2 linked regions of the Homo sapiens genome follow. The protein of the gene in region 1 interacts with the protein of each later gene in a pairwise test. Each region holds a gene or a part of one and is shown in the gene's direction. Other genes may lie near its edges. The genes, in order: C5AR2 and DCDC2.

The links.
Region 2: the proteins of C5AR2 (region 1) and DCDC2 interact in binary tests that used the Homo sapiens proteins (3 or more experiments, as listed by UniProt).

Annotation. Positions count from the first base shown.
Region 1 is NC_000019.10:47,327,802-47,335,492, forward strand, and holds the start of C5AR2 (C5a anaphylatoxin chemotactic receptor 2), read left to right. Parts: upstream 1-4,373; 5' UTR 4,374-4,548; intron 4,549-7,691.
Region 2 is NC_000006.12:24,172,407-24,180,221, reverse strand, and holds part of DCDC2 (doublecortin domain-containing protein 2), read left to right. Parts: intron 1-1,589; coding exon 1,590-1,892; intron 1,893-5,387; coding exon 5,388-5,492; 3' UTR 5,493-7,815. UniProt on the Homo sapiens protein: Protein that plays a role in the inhibition of canonical Wnt signaling pathway. May be involved in neuronal migration during development of the cerebral neocortex. Involved in the control of ciliogenesis and ciliary length.

The DNA of each region.
Region 1 (7,691 bases):
CCCGCCTCAGCCTCCTGAGTAGCTGGGACTGCAGGTGCCCGCCACCATGCCCAGCTAATTTTCTGTATTTTTAGTGGAGACGGGGTTTCACCATGTTAGCCAGGATGGTCTCGATCTCCTGACCTCGTAATCCACCTGCCTCGGCCTCCCAAAGTGCTGGGATTACAGGCGTGAGCCACCGCGCCCGGCTGAAAAATGATAATTTCATATGGATTGACTTAAGAACCTTTTAGGATGGTTGGGTGTGGTGGCTAATACCTGTAATCCCAGCACTTTCGGAGGCTGAAGCAGGTGGATTATTTGAGGTCAGGAGTTTGAGACAACCCTGGCCAACATGGTGAAACCCCGTTTCTACTAAAAATACAAAAATTAGCTGGGTATGGTGGCAGGTGCCTGTAATCCCAGCTACTTAGGAGGCTGAGGCTGGAGAATTGCTTGAACCTGGGAGGCAGAGGGTATAGTGAGCCAAGATCACACCACTGCACTCGAGCCTGGGCGACATAGCAAGACTCTGTCTCAAAAAAAAAAAAAAAGAAAAGAGAAAGAAAAAGAAAAAAAGAAGCAAAAAAAATCCTTGTAGGATGTTCTCATTCAAAATTTCTCCCAGGAGGAAATGGCTGGTGAGTTGAGGGGGTAGTGCTCGGCTTTTCACAGGGTGGCTGAGAGAGAATCCCCTGCACGTACACACTGGCCCCCCTCCTGCCTTCCGAGGCCTGTAGAGACCCTGTTCTTGGCCCATAGCAACCCCCAGACCTCCAAGTGACAGCCCTCAGCTCCAGGGACACCAGAAAATCTTTGCCTTCCCAAATCTAAGATTTTTGTTTTGTTTTTGTTTTTTTGGAAACGGAGTCCTGCTCTGTCGCCCAGGCTGGAGTGCAGTGGTGCCATCTTGGCTCATTGCAACCTCCACCTCCCAGGTTCAAACAATTCTCCTGCCTCAGCCTCCTGAGTAGCTGGGATTACAGGTACTCCCCAACCAAGCCTGACTAATTTTTTTTTTTTTTTGTATTTTCAGTAGAGACAGGGTTTCACAATGTTGGCCAGGTGGGTCTGGAACTCCTGACCTCAAATGATCCACTGGCCTTGGCTTCCCAAAGTGCTGGGATTACAGAAGTAAGCCACTGCGCCCAGCCTCAAATCTAAGACACTTAAAAATTTGTTTTTTTGGTTTTTTTTTTTTGAGACGCAGTTTCGCTCTTGTTGCCCAGGCTACAGTGCAATGGCGCGATCTCGGCTCACCGCAACCTCCGCCTCCCAGGTTCAAGCGATTCTCCTGCCTTAGCCTCCCGAGTAGCTGGGATTACAGGCGCCCACCACCTAGGCTAATTTTGTATTTTTAGTAGAGACGGGGTTTCTCCATGTTGGTCAGGCTGGTCTTGAACTCCCGACCTCAGGTGATCCACCCACCTTGGCATCCCAAAGTGCTGGGATTACAGGCATGAGCCACCGTGACTGGCAATTTTTTTAAAATTTTAAATTATTTTTTCGAGTCAGGGCCTTTCTCTGTTGCTCAGGCTGGAGTGCAGTGGTGCATTCACAGTTCACTGCAGCCTTGAGCTCTTGGGCTCAAGCGATCCTCCCTCCTCAGCCTCCACCTCCCACTTCAGCCTCCAGAGTAGCAGGACTACAGGCTCGCTCCAACACGCCTGGCTAATTAAAACAAATTCTAGGGGGGCAGATGCTGTGGCTAGCACACGTAATCACGGCACTTTGGAAGGCCAGTGTGGGAGGATTGCTCGAGCCTAGGAATTGGAGGCAAGACTAGGCAACAGAGACAGACCCCATCTCTACAAAAAGTTTTTTAAAAAATTAGCTGGGTGTGGTGGCTTGAGCCTGTAGTCCCAACTACTTTGGGGGCTGAGGTGGGAGGATTGCTTGAACCCAGGAGGTCAAGGCTGCGGTGAGCTGTGATCACACCACTGCACTCCAATCTGGGTGAAGAGTCAGACCCTGGATTAAAAAAATATATATTTTTCCCCCAGAGACAGCATCTCACTATGTTGGTCAGGCTGGTCTCAAAATCCTAGCCTCAAGCAGTCCTCACACCTCGGCCTCCTAAAGTGTGGAGATTAGAGGTGTAAGCCATCCTGCCTGGCTGCAATTCTAAGAAATGTATGTTGAAAAACTTAGTGGATGTATCAGGAGTTTATCAAGATGAAGCATCTGAGGAACAGACCATCGTTAACTTTTCAAGTTAAAGCAAGTTTGAGCTCCCGGGCGTGGTGGCTCATGCCTGTAATCCCAGCACTTTGGGAGGCCGAGGTGGGCAGATCATGAGGTCAGGAGATCGAGACCATCCTGGCTAACACGGCGAAACCCCGTCTCTACTAAAAATACAAAAAAAATTAGCCGGGCGTGGTGGCGGGTGCCTGTAGTCCCAGCTACTCGGGGGGGCTGAGGCAGGAGAATGGTGTGAACCCGGGAGGTGGAGCTTGCAGTGAGCCGAGATCGCGCCACTGCACTCCAGCCTGGGCAACAGAGACAGACTCCGTCTCAAAAAAAAAAAAAAAAAGAAAGAAAAAAAGAAAGTTTGAGCTGATAAAGGGAAGGTTCCACCTCGGTTTCTTTCCTCTTAATCTCTTCTTCAGGCCAGGGCAGATTCCCACAGGAGATTGGGGCTGGCAGGATGTCCCTCCTCTCCCAAGGAGGGGGCTTCCCGGGACAGAAGAGGAGGGGAGGGGACTTGGGGGATGTTTTCCTCTCTGAGGGTCCGGGGTGAGGGTCAGCCAACGCAGGGTCACCTAGTCAGGGAAACAGAGTGGAGGAAGCCCTGGGTCAAACAGTGAGTCCCAGCTCCTTGTCTCACGAACAACTTCCTCTAGCAAAGTGATTTCATTCTCTAAAACAATAACAAAAGAAGTGTGTAAATATATCCCTTGAATCCCTAAAGCACGCACAAAAAAAGCACAAACAGAAAGAACTGCTGAATAAAGAGGTTCCAAAGTTGGGGTTGGAGCCACTTCCTCTTGCTAAGCCTGCGTGGTATGTGTACTTTAAGAATTCACGTTACAGTCTTGTTGCTGTTGCGTGAGCCTAGCGTATACTATGTGCCAGGCACTGCTCCGGTTTTTTTGTTTTTGTTTTTTTGAGACAGAGTCTCACTCTGTCGCCCAGGCTGGAGTGCAATGGTGAGATCTCGGCTCACTGGAACCTCCGCCTCCTCGGTTCAAATGATTCTCCTGCCTCGGCCTCCCGAGTAGCTGGGATTACAGGCACGCACCACCACGCCCAGCTAATTTTTGTATTTTTAGTAGAGATGGTGTTCTGCCATGTTGGCCAGGCTGGTCTTGAACACTTGACTTCAAGTGATCCACCTGCCTCGGCCTCCCAAAGTGCTGGGATTACAGATGTGAGCTACCGCGCCCAGCCAGTTCTGTGCGTTTTAAATGTATCCAACGCTCATAGCAAACATCCACTGCACAGATGAGGAAGTTGAGGTTCAGAGGGGCTGAGGCCCTGAACTTTGATGAGGGTGTGTCGACCTGGAATATGAATCTCATCATTCTGGCCCTTGAGTTCTTGTTCTCAGCCACTGTGATATGCTGGAAGAGGTTAAGAATTGCTATCACGGCTGTGGCTCACTTCTGTAATCCCAGCCCTTTGGGAGGTCGAGGTGTGAGGATGGCTTGAGGCTGGGCAACACAGCAAGGCCGCACCTCTACAGAAAATTTTAAAAAATTAGCCAGGTATGTTGGTGCATGCCTGTAGTCCTAGCTACTCAGGAGGCTGAGGTGGGAGGATCACTTGAGCCTAGGAGTTTGAGGCTGCAGTGAGGCATAATGTTTTCACTGCACGCCAGTCTGAGCGACAGAGCAAGACTCCATCTCTAAAAAAAGTAAAGCATCGCTATGGCCAACAACATCTTCCCATTCTACAGATGGAAAATTGAGGCCCAAGAAAGGAGTTGTTTGTGCTTTTTCTACCACTGAGGCGTTGGGCCCTGCGCTCAGCTGCTGTGGTCTTTTTGTGGAGAATGTGACCCCAGGCTGTCTTCCTCAGAGCCGAGGAGGAGGGAGGGATGTTTGTCTGTCCTGAGGCTGCAGAAGGGAGGGGTTGAACACAGTTAGAGGCCTGGAGGTGGCTGGGGGCAGCTGGCATGTTGTGGGCAAACAGAATCCAGGCCAAGACCTCTAAGGCGTTAAAGAGCAAACCGCATGCAGGTCTGGCTTCCAGGAAGGTGGGACTTCGAGACTAGGGTTGGGGACTTGGGATCAGCCCTCCACCCAACCGAGCCCTCTCCTGCCCTGCCAGCCACCCCGTAATTTTGGGTTCTGTGAGTCACGGGAAGAAGACAGGACAAACACACCCTGAGAGCGAGACAAGGCCACTCCTATTTTGTACTGCTTATAAAGATTCACTGGGACTGGTGAGGTGGCAGTGCTCAGCAGCATCCGACAGGAGCCCTGGCAAACAGGACGGATTTCCAGGACTCTACCAGCTGCCAGACACGGCAGGGAGAGACCCCAGACCTCCTGGGTCCTGGCTGTGGGCCCGGATTGGGCTCCCAAGTGGCGTTTGACTCACGTGGGGACACTCTTGGAAGAGACGGTAAGGATGGAGGCTACAAGGGCGGGAAGGAGGGAGAGAGAGATTGCATGATCTTGGCTTCTCGGAATCATTACTTTCAGAATCTGGGAAGCAGAACTAGAGTTTGAGAAGTGCAGTCTTATTACAGCCACACTGGAACGCACGTCACAGTCCTGGGCTCTTGAATTAACTTGGGCAGCCCAGCAGCAAAGCTCTTGTCAAAGGATCTAAGCATTTTTTTTCTTTCTCTTTTTGGAGACAGGTTTTCATTCTTGTTGCCCAGGCTGGAGTGCAATGGTGCCATCTTGGCTCACCGCAACCTCCACCTCCCAGGTTCAAGGGATTCTCTTGTCTCAGCTGGGATTACAAGCGCATGCCACCATGCCTGGCTAATTTTGTATTTTTAGTAGAGATGGGGTTTCTCCATGTTGGTCAGGCTGGTCTCGAACTCCCGACCTCAGGTGATCTGTCCGCCTTGGCCTCCCAAAGTGCTGGGATTACAGGCGTGAGCCACTGTGCCCTGCCCAAATGGTTTTTCACACACAGATGTATGGGAAACAGCCTCTCTCAAACCTGCAGGAATTCCTGCAGCTTTCGGCAGATCCACCAAACTGTAGCATGTGTAGCAAGCAAGCCCTTTAACTCAGCGATTCCAATTCTTTTCTCTTTCTTTCCTTTTCTCTCTTTCTTTCTTTTGACAGGGTCTCACTCTGTCTCCCAGGCTGGAGTGCAGTGGTGCGATCTTGGCTCACTGCAACCTCCGCCTCCCAGGTTCAAGTGATTCTCCTGCCCCAGCCTGCTGAGTAGCTGGGATTACAGGTGCACGCCACCACACCTAGCTAATTTTTGTATTTTTAGTAGAGATGGGGTTTCACCATGTTGGCCAGGCTGGTCTCCAACTTTTGACCTCAGGTGATCCACCTACCTTGGCCTCCCAAAGTGCTGGGATTACAGGCGTGAATCACCGTGCCTGGCCCCCTCAATGTTCTATCACAAAATCTGTCCACATTCTTGTGTGGTGTTTGTTCATTCTCATCGTGTAGAATATTCCACAGGGTGAACACCCCATGATGTGTTTATCCATTCTGCTGTGGGTGGCTATTTGGACGGTTTCTCATCTTGGGCTGCTGTGAACATTCTGGCACATGTATTCTGGTGAGCATATGTGTTCTTTTGCGGAAAGGAGGCTGATTGCTGGGTCGTGAGGGAGGAATCCTAGAAGATGGATGTTCAGGAATAAAGAATGTTCAGACTCCTTTTTTTTTTTTTTTTTTTTGAGATGGAGTCTTGCTCAGGCTGGAGTGCAGTGGTGCGATCTCGGCTCACTGCAACCTCCGCCTCCTGGGTTCACGCCATTCTCCTGCCTCAGCCTCCTGAGTAGCTGGGACTACAGGCGCCCGCCACCGCGCCCAGCTAATTTTTTGTATTTTTTAGTAGAGATGGGGTTTCACCATGTTAGCCAGGATGGTCTCGATCTCCTGACCTCGTGATCCACCTGCCTGGGCCTCCCAAAGTGCCGGGGATTACAGGTGTGAGCCACTGCGCCCGGCCAGCCTTCTTTGATTCTGCTCCAGGGTTTTCCAGAGCAGAGAACCCAGCAAGACTGGATGCACAGACAGGCGTGCACCAAGAGGCACATGTGAGGGTGCTTGCAATCACAACAAAAGAAACCTAAGTGACCACTTAGTCTCTCTGTGCCTCAGTTTACTCTTTTATCCTTTCACTTACCAAATATCGACCATGCCTGTGCTGTGTGCCAGGTTCTGTCCCAGATGCCAGGGACACAGCGGCACCCGAGGCTGGAAGGAGCTGATGTTGTGGGATATGAGGATGATAATATTGACCTCAAGGGTTTGTGTTGAGGGTTATATCTTGTAGGTCATAGGTGCTCAATAAAAGCCATCTATTATTTTAATTATTATGAAATAATAAGAAGGGTACCTATGATTTAAAAGCTAGATATAAGTACAGACGCTCTTTGACTTACAATGGGGTCCCATCTCTATCAACCCATCGTAAGGCTGGGCACAGTGGCTCACGCCTGTAATGGCAGCACTTTTGGGAGGCTGAGGTGGGAGGATTTCTTGAGCCCAGGAGTTTGAGATCAGCCTGGGCAACAGAGTAAGGGCTGTCCATACAGAAAAAAAAAAAAAAATTAGCTGGGCATGATGGCGTGCACCCGTAGTCCCAGCTACTCCAGAGGCTGAGGCAGGAGGATCAGTTGAGCCTAGGAGGTAGAGGCTGTGGTGAGCCGAGGTTGAACCACTGAACTCAGCTTGGGTGACTGAACAAGACGAAAACACAAAACAAAAGCCCCCAACATTTTCAACATAAGTTGAAAATATTGTAAATCAAATTGGATTTAATACACCTAGCTTACTGAACATCATAGCCTACTTTTTTTTTTTGAGACAGGGTCTCACTCTGTTGTCCAGGCTGGAGTGCAGTGGCGCGATCTTGGCTCACTGCAGCCTTGACCTCACGGGCGTAGCCTACCTCAAATGTGTTCAGAACATTTACATTACCCAACAGCAAGACAAAATCATCTAAGCCAAATCCAATTTTTTTTTTTTTGAGATGGAGTCTCACTCTGTCACCCATGCTGGAGTGCAGTGGTGTGATCTCAGCTGACTGCAACCTCCACCTCCCAGCTTCAAGGGATTCTCCTGCCTCGGCCTTCTGAGTAGCTGAGATTACAGGCACTCGCCCCCACGCCCAGCTAATTTTTTTTTTTTTTTAAATCTTTAGCAGAGATGAGATTTTATCATGTTGGCCAGGCTGGTCTCAAACTCCTGACCTCAAGTGATCCGTCTGCCTAGGACTCCCAAAGCGTTGGGATTACAGGTGTGAGCTTCTGCACCTGGCCCTGTTTCTCATTATTCTCCTTACCATTGTTATTGAATGGCCTTTAGTTAATAAGCACCACTTGGGCAGACAGTGGACTGTTTTTGATGCTTTGAGGACGAATGGGGTTGATATCTGTACAGATAGACAGGAAAACAGATATCGGGCACGTTAAGTGGAAAAGATGAAGAAATGGAACAACGTATGTTGAAAGCTCCCATTTCTGGTTAAGACGTTACAAAGGAAATGCCATCTACGATACCATTGCTTTGGGCTTACAGCTGGGCAAATTATATGCACAGAAAGTTTCCTGGATTGGG
Region 2 (7,815 bases), on another chromosome or scaffold:
TATTGTAACAAATGGGAAGGGATTTCCATGTTTTTTAGGATCTGTGATGTGCCAGAAACTATGACACTTTATATAACTTTTCTTTAATCTTCATGGAAGTTTTGTTACGTTCCCATTTTACAAATGGGGAATCTGAAACTCACCAAAGTTAGGTAACAGCCAGTAAGTGCCTGGTCAGGACTTGAACCTGGGTTTTTCTCCAAAGTCTTGGCTCTGAAAGCTGGCCTCCTGTTCCCTCCCCCACCCCTTGTTTTTTTTTTTTTTTTTTGAGATGGAGTCTTGCTCTGTCGCCCAGGCTGGAGTACAGTAGCACTATCTGGGCTCACTGCAAGCTCTGCCTCCCGGGTTCATGCAATTCTCCTGCCTCAGCCTCCTGAGTAGCTGGGACCACAGGTGCCCACCACCACGCCTGGCTAATTTTTTGTATTTTTAGTAGAGATGGGGTTTCACCGTGTTAGCCAGGATGGTCTCAATCTCCTGACCTCGTGATCTGCCCGCCTCGGCCTCCCAAAGTGCTGGGATTACAGGCATAAGCCACCGTGCCTGGCCTCCTGTTCCCTCTTGAAGCAGATTTATGTGTATCAAAATAACAGTAGAACAGTGAAATGCTTGATTAAGGTTTATGAAATACTTTAGTATTTATTCTTTTTTTTTTTTTTTTTTTTTTTTTTTTTGAGATGGTGTCTTGCTCTGTCACCCAGGCTGGAGTGCAGTGGCGCGATCTCGGCTCACTGCAAGCTCTGCCTCCTGGGTTCACGCCATTCTCCTGCCTCAGCCTCCCGAGTAGCTGGGACTACAGGTGTGCACCACCATGCCCAGCTAATTTTTTTGTATTTTTAGTAGAGATGGGGTTTCACCATGTTAGCCAGGATGGTCTCGATCTCCTGACCTCATGATCTGCCCGCCTCGGCCTCCCAAAGTGCTAGGATTACAAGTGTGACCACTGTGCCTGGCCCTCAGCATTTATTATTCTTACAGAGAGGACATATAGTTTCTTGACCTTAGATCTGCAGGAAAATCAGTTATTGTGTTTAGAGAGAAGCTGTCAGCTTCCTTAGGCATTGTGGGGAAAGCTGTCTACATTCCACGTCAGAAAACATGAATTCACAGCCTGGTGCCATTGCCCTCATCCTTAGCCTTGAGGATGACAATCTTTCCACAAAGACTTTTTTTTTTTAAACCTCTTCCTCTGGGCCAGGTGCTTCACTAGACAGTGGCCAAGGACCTTGCGGTTTGGCTTTCTATCTGCCATGGGGGTTACAAGCACTGGTTCTGGAGTCACAGGCCTAGTTCAAACTCTGGCTCTTTCTGTGGGATCTTGGGCTCCACCTGTTTAGTTTTCTCATCTGCAAAATGGGAATGATAACAATTTCAAAGGATTGTTGTGAGGATTAAATGAGGGAATGCTTGTAACATGTGGCATGTGGTAGGTACTCAGTAAACGTAAGTGCGTTCTATACTGTAAAGTACTATGCAAATGTAAGAATGTTTTACTTGACTGTAATATAAGTATTACATTACTATGATGTGCAGTGGAAATGTTCTGTTATGCTTCTTACTTTTATCCATTATTCCTTTTGATCCATCAGAGGCCAGCAGAAATAGTAGACGAGGAAGAAGATGGAGAGAAGGCAAACAAGGATGCAGAACAGAAAGAAGACTTTTCAGGAATGAATGGTGACCTTGAAGAGGAAGGAGGTAGGGAGGCTACAGATGCCCCTGAGCAAGTCGAGGAGATTCTGGATCACAGTGAGCAGCAGGCACGCCCTGCTCGTGTAAATGGAGGCACCGATGAGGAGAATGGTGAGGAGCTGCAGCAGGTTAATAATGAGCTTCAACTGGTCCTAGACAAGGAAAGAAAGTCTCAAGGAGCTGGCAGTGGACAAGATGAGGTATTTCTATTGCTTTTGCTTGCTTATGTGAATGCATGAATATGTGTGTGTGTACATGCGTGCATTCAGAGAATTAATCAAGTGTTTAGGACTTGTATTGAAACCACTTGTGGTTGAGTAGGAAAGATCCAATACCATTTAATCCCTTTACTTACTAGTTATTTCAACCATTTAACAATACTGCCATTGACCTGACAGTTTGTGTCTGCCCTTCTGCCATTCATACATTTAGCCATTGACCCATCCATCTACTTACCTCCTGCCTAATTTTACAAGAAAATGTACAGAGCCTTCTAAGAACATACATAATCCAAGAAAGAAATATAAAAAAGTAAGAATAAGTTAAGACCAGAGAAGGTAGAAACCAAAAAAGAATATCAAGACCAGTGAGACCTAGACATGAAATAAGGAATACTTTCTCTATTATGAGTGATTTCTTTGATCTCTAGAAGTACTGAAGTTAGTTTGCTTTTTTCTACTTTAAATAGATTAATCAAATTAAGCATTCAACACATTAGGCACTTGGGTAGTATACAGTTCTATTTATTATACAGAGAGGATAAAGAAATATGTGGTGAAAATAAGAGAACAGAAAAAGTAATATCTGGTGAAATCTCTCTTTTCCTAGCCTGTTCTTCTATGTCTGATCCTGGAGTTGGATACTCATCAGTCCTGGCATTCTTCCACGGGACAATATGATCCTGTTGCTGCCAGGCTCAAGTTGAGTCTCACAGCATAAGAGGCAGGATGTTCTCCATAACATTCTCACCATCTGCTTATCCCATCCCTTCCTGTCTATCCGTCAGTTCAAGGTCCACCTCCCTCAAGGCTGTAACTGCTGAAGTGGGCCTTGGACTACTCATTCCTAATACCCACTATGATCACTGAGGTCTACTTGATTATTTATTATTGATGCATCTGATTTATCTTGCTTAGGGAAAGCAAGTTTAGCGGTGGCAAAATGCAAAATGTTCTGGTGGCCAGGTTTCAGTAACAGTACGAAGTTATCTGCAATCCACTATATGAGTTATTCAAAATGTTCTTAACATCTAAATGAAAATGCTCAGCATGTCTCTTATCTTTTCTCAAGGTGAGATAATCATAGTCCTATTCTATAAGAAATTCCCCATATTAGTTCTACATAGTCCTCAGCGTCATTTATATGGCACCTGTAATAGTAGGTTTCATACAACTCTTTGTTGTAGTAGCTTTTGATGAAAGCTTACAAAATGAAATCAAAGTGTAATTCTGTGTGGGACTAGATAGTAAGATCCAACATGATTTTTTTCCAGTGGTCTAGCTTAATTCAACATATCACATAAATAGATTTTACAGAAATGAATGGATTGCCTGTCCTTCCATCTTCCATAAATATAACTTTAAAAAATAATCCTGTAATTTGCAATGACATGAATAAACCTGGAGGACATTATGTTAAGTGAAATTAGCCAACCAAAGAAAGACACATACCATATGATCTCACTTATATGTGTAATCTAAAAACAGTTAAACTCATAGAAGTAGAAGGTAGAATGGTGGTTACCAGGGACTGAGTACAGGGTTGGAGAGATGTTGGTCAAATGATACAAAATTTCTGCGAGAAAGGAGGAATAAGTTCAAGAGATCTATTGTACAGTAAGGTGTCTAACGTATAATAACAATGTATTGTATACTTGAAAATCACTAACAGAGCAGATTTGAAGGGTTCTCACCACAAAAGATAAGTATGTGAGGTAAGGTGTATGTTAATTAACTCAAGCCATTTCACAATGGATACATATTTCAAAACATCATTTTGTATGCTATAAACATACAATTTTTATTTGCCAATTATGACAAATGAATATTTTTTTAAAGGGGAAAAATAGGCTTTTGATAGGAATTGGGCATCCGTCAAGATCAAGGTTATGTAATTTGGCATTGACCTGTGGTATGTAATGAGAGTGAATCTAAATTCTTGGGAATTCAAATAAGGAAGTGCCTAGTTTGTGATTTTTTTTTTTGAGACAACATCTAATTAGGGACTTTTTTTTTGTGACAAGGTCTCACTCTGCTACCCAGGCTGGAGTTCAGTGGCGTGATCACAGCTCACTGCAGCTTTGACCTCCCGGGCTCAAGTGATCCTCCCACTTCATCCTCCTGTGATAGCTGGGCCCACAGGTGCCACCATGCCAGGCCATATATACATATTTTTTAATATGGAGGAAGTCTCCCTCCCTGTGTTGCACAGGCTGGTTTTTAACTCCTGGACTCAAGCGATCCTCTTGCCTTGACCTCTCAAAGTGATGAGATTACAGCCACGTGCCACCATGCCCGGCCTAATTAGGGATTAGTAACAGAGCAGTTACTCACAAAGAGATTTAATCTTATTTGACTCATCTCTTACTTATAACAATGATATATTTTATCTTGTTCTCCCTAACATATTAGTATAGGTATATTTTAAGCATACCGAAATATATGAGAAACCAAATTTATGTGAATTGTAAGTTAAAAATGAATAGTTAACTTTTACAGAAGGACTGTCTACTAATAAAATGACTAGAAATTCTGTTCACCGTGTAACATTTTGTTCCATGTAACAATTCTTGTACAAAGCGAGATATGATTGTAGGAAAATACCAGGAAATACAGAGAATTTACAAGAAACAATTGACATTTATTGAGATTGAACTTGTACTATATTCAAGATACCATTTGAGACATTTCACAAAGGAACAGTGTGAAATAAGACACGGCACCAGTCATATATATATATAATTTCTTCAAAGCATCAGTCATGGCCTGTGTGGTTTGGGGAACCTGGAGCTACTCTGTCCCCCAGACTGGGTGCCCTTGTGGGGGCTGTGGAGCCTCTAGGATTTCATAGAGCAGACTTTGCAAACCTGCTGGTTCTAATCTCACCCACTCAGTTTTCAGTGTAGTCGGGGAAAGGTGAGTTGTACATGAGACAATGTCATTATTAACAGGAAAAACCCAAGTGGCAGGAGCAATAGTTGTTGTTGGAGAAATGCTGCCTCCACATTTTGATTTTCTGTCTTTTTCTTATCTACTTGCTACTTGATGGTACTTGGTACCATATTCACAACGAATTTGTGAATTCTAGGAGGAAACTAAAATTAGGAGAATGTCCCTGAATTTTTTCTTCCTTTGTCTCTGAAAATGCTAAACTGAAAAGTATAACTAAATTGAAGAAAAGCTCAAAGAGAAATCAAGAAAAAATGAGAAAAATAAAGCCTGCAGCATACAAAATGAGTCAGGGCCTTTCAAGCACTAGTAGATTATGAACCCCAAAAGGACTTTTGTACAAGTGTTGAGAAAACAGTATGTCCACTGGGTAATGATAGACAAAAAAACAAAGGGAACCCCAGGAACTCTTTTTAGTTAAATATTTATATAATTAAATAGAATCTTGAGTAATTTTTTCTTTATAAATGTCATTACCTTTGTGAACCAAACAGCTGAATACCTTTGTTTTGATCTATTTTCTTCTAGGCTGATGTAGACCCTCAAAGACCACCAAGGCCAGAAGTAAAAATTACCAGTCCAGAAGAAAATGAAAACAACCAACAAAACAAGGACTATGCTGCCGTGGCTTAGAACATTTTTAAAAAGAGAGTATATGGATCGCAAGAAAAATGAAGGGTTATCATACTTGAAAGATAAGCACATAGTTATTGCTGAATATAATGTGACACTATGGTCGAATACTACCTACGAATTATAACATTAGAAGCCTAGTGGAAAGACCAGATAACTTTAAATGGCTACTAAAGGATAATTACTTACTTTTATTGCATGTGTTTTAAAAGTCATATAGAAATATTAAATAAGACGGACAGAGGAGAATTTGCACTGGAAGACAATTGCCACTTGTAAAGGATGAAAAATAGGATCACTCTTATTGTACGCTTTATTATAAGTTTAGAAGGCAGTTTATTCTAAATAATTTTTCTCTAGGAAGGCGTAGAATTTTAAAGAACTGGTAATAGGAAAGCATGTACTATTTTCTTAAAGCAATAAACTCTTGAATGAACAGATTGCGATTTACTTTCAGACATAATTTGGAGATGGCAGTAGATCAAAATGTGTCCATGACTTGTTAACATGCCTTTCTTTCTTCCTCCTTAGCCAAAATCCACCTTTGAACTACAAAGACAGAGCAAGGCGTTCATTTTGGTGGGAGGAAGCATTGGTTCAGAGTGTTAGTGACTAGTATCGCCATGCCGTCACTTAAATGCTTTCAGGCTTGCATGCTTGTGGCTCCAATGGCGCACACTCAGGAAGGAATTGTAAAGGAGCACCCAGTTATATTATAAAGCCTGGATGTATGGTTTGCAGATAATGGAAATCCTGTGGATTTTCACTGATCCAGTCTATCTTTACCAATAGTATCTCTCTCTTCTCCCTTATGTTATTAGAGAACCTGATATTGGCTATTCCAAAGATTAAATTATTTTCAAATAGTTTTCAACAAAAATAAAAGTGTATTAGGAAGAAAAAAGTAGACTATATGAAGAGTTTGTGACTGCTCAATTTAACTTGTTTTTTGCCTTATTTCTATTAAGACTGTTTTACTATGTTTTTGCCCTAGGGATATCAGCAAATATTTATTTTTCCTAGCATGATATAGTTAGAATTTCAAGCAGATTTCTTTGTAATTAGAAGGCATCTGATAGAAATTGTAAAACTTTAGAAGTTATTATAATGAAACCAATTCCTGAATCACAACTTCATGGACTGACTAAATTGATTTATAGTTGCCTTGTGAGGTATGTATGGGGAAAACATAAAAACATAATTAAAACATAATTTCGTCCTTTTTATGAATTCTTAAGAGATGTTCTTCCATAAATATAGAAATAATATATTTTTCTTAAAGGATATATTTTTAATTATGTGGAAGTTGTAAGCTTGAAATTTTAACTTCTAGTGCTTTTCTAAAATTCACAATTACAAGTTTAAAACATTTTTTCTCTTCCAGGTTTCATTTGGAATAAAGAGTTGGCAGTTATATAAAGCACTTAATAATACTATAGAAAATAGATGTGTTTTTTCTTAATATGATTTTGGTATTTTCCACAGATCAGAAGTGTAAACAGAGAGATAATGTAACAGTATTTGGAAGAGATAATGACACAAGGATATAGTGATCTGGGAGCATGAATTAGAAACAGGGTACTATGTTTCTGGTGTAAAATCTAAATTGTGCTTTCTACTAGCGTTACTTTTTCAAATGGGATGATATAAAGCACTGTGGGCTATAAGCAACAATCTTGGGTTGGTAGGCAAATAGACCAATTGATCTTTATTATTATTATTATTATTATTATTATTATTTTTTGAGATGAAGTCTTGCTCTTGTCGCCCAGGCTGGGTGCAGTGGCATGATCTTGGCTTACTGCAACCTCTGCCTCCTGGGTTCAAGCACCTGAGCCTCCCGAGTAGCTGGGATTACAGGCATCTGCCACCACACCTGGCTAATTTTTGTATTTTTTGTAGAGACAGATGTTTCACCATGTTGGCCAGGCTGGTCTCAAACTCCTGACCTCAGGTGATCCGCCCGCCTTTGCATCCCAAAATGCTGGGATTACAGGTGTGAGCCACAGCACCCGGTCCCAGTTGGTCTTTTAATATTAAATTTGTGCACTATTACTGGGTCTGGAGTTAATGATTTCAAATAGTTTCTAAAAATAACTGATTAAATGTAAGAAATTATAACTAATTATCAAGGTGATTCTCTTTTGTTTCTTCAATGGAGAGTTTCTCTTTCTCTTTTCCTCCTCTAATAAAAATATTTCTTTTTTTCCTGTCCTTTTATTCATTATATTATGAAACTTAGGTTTTAGGAAACACCTTAAGCGTCATTTTAATGAAGCACAACATTGATATTTTACATGAATAATAACGTTTGGTATTTTAA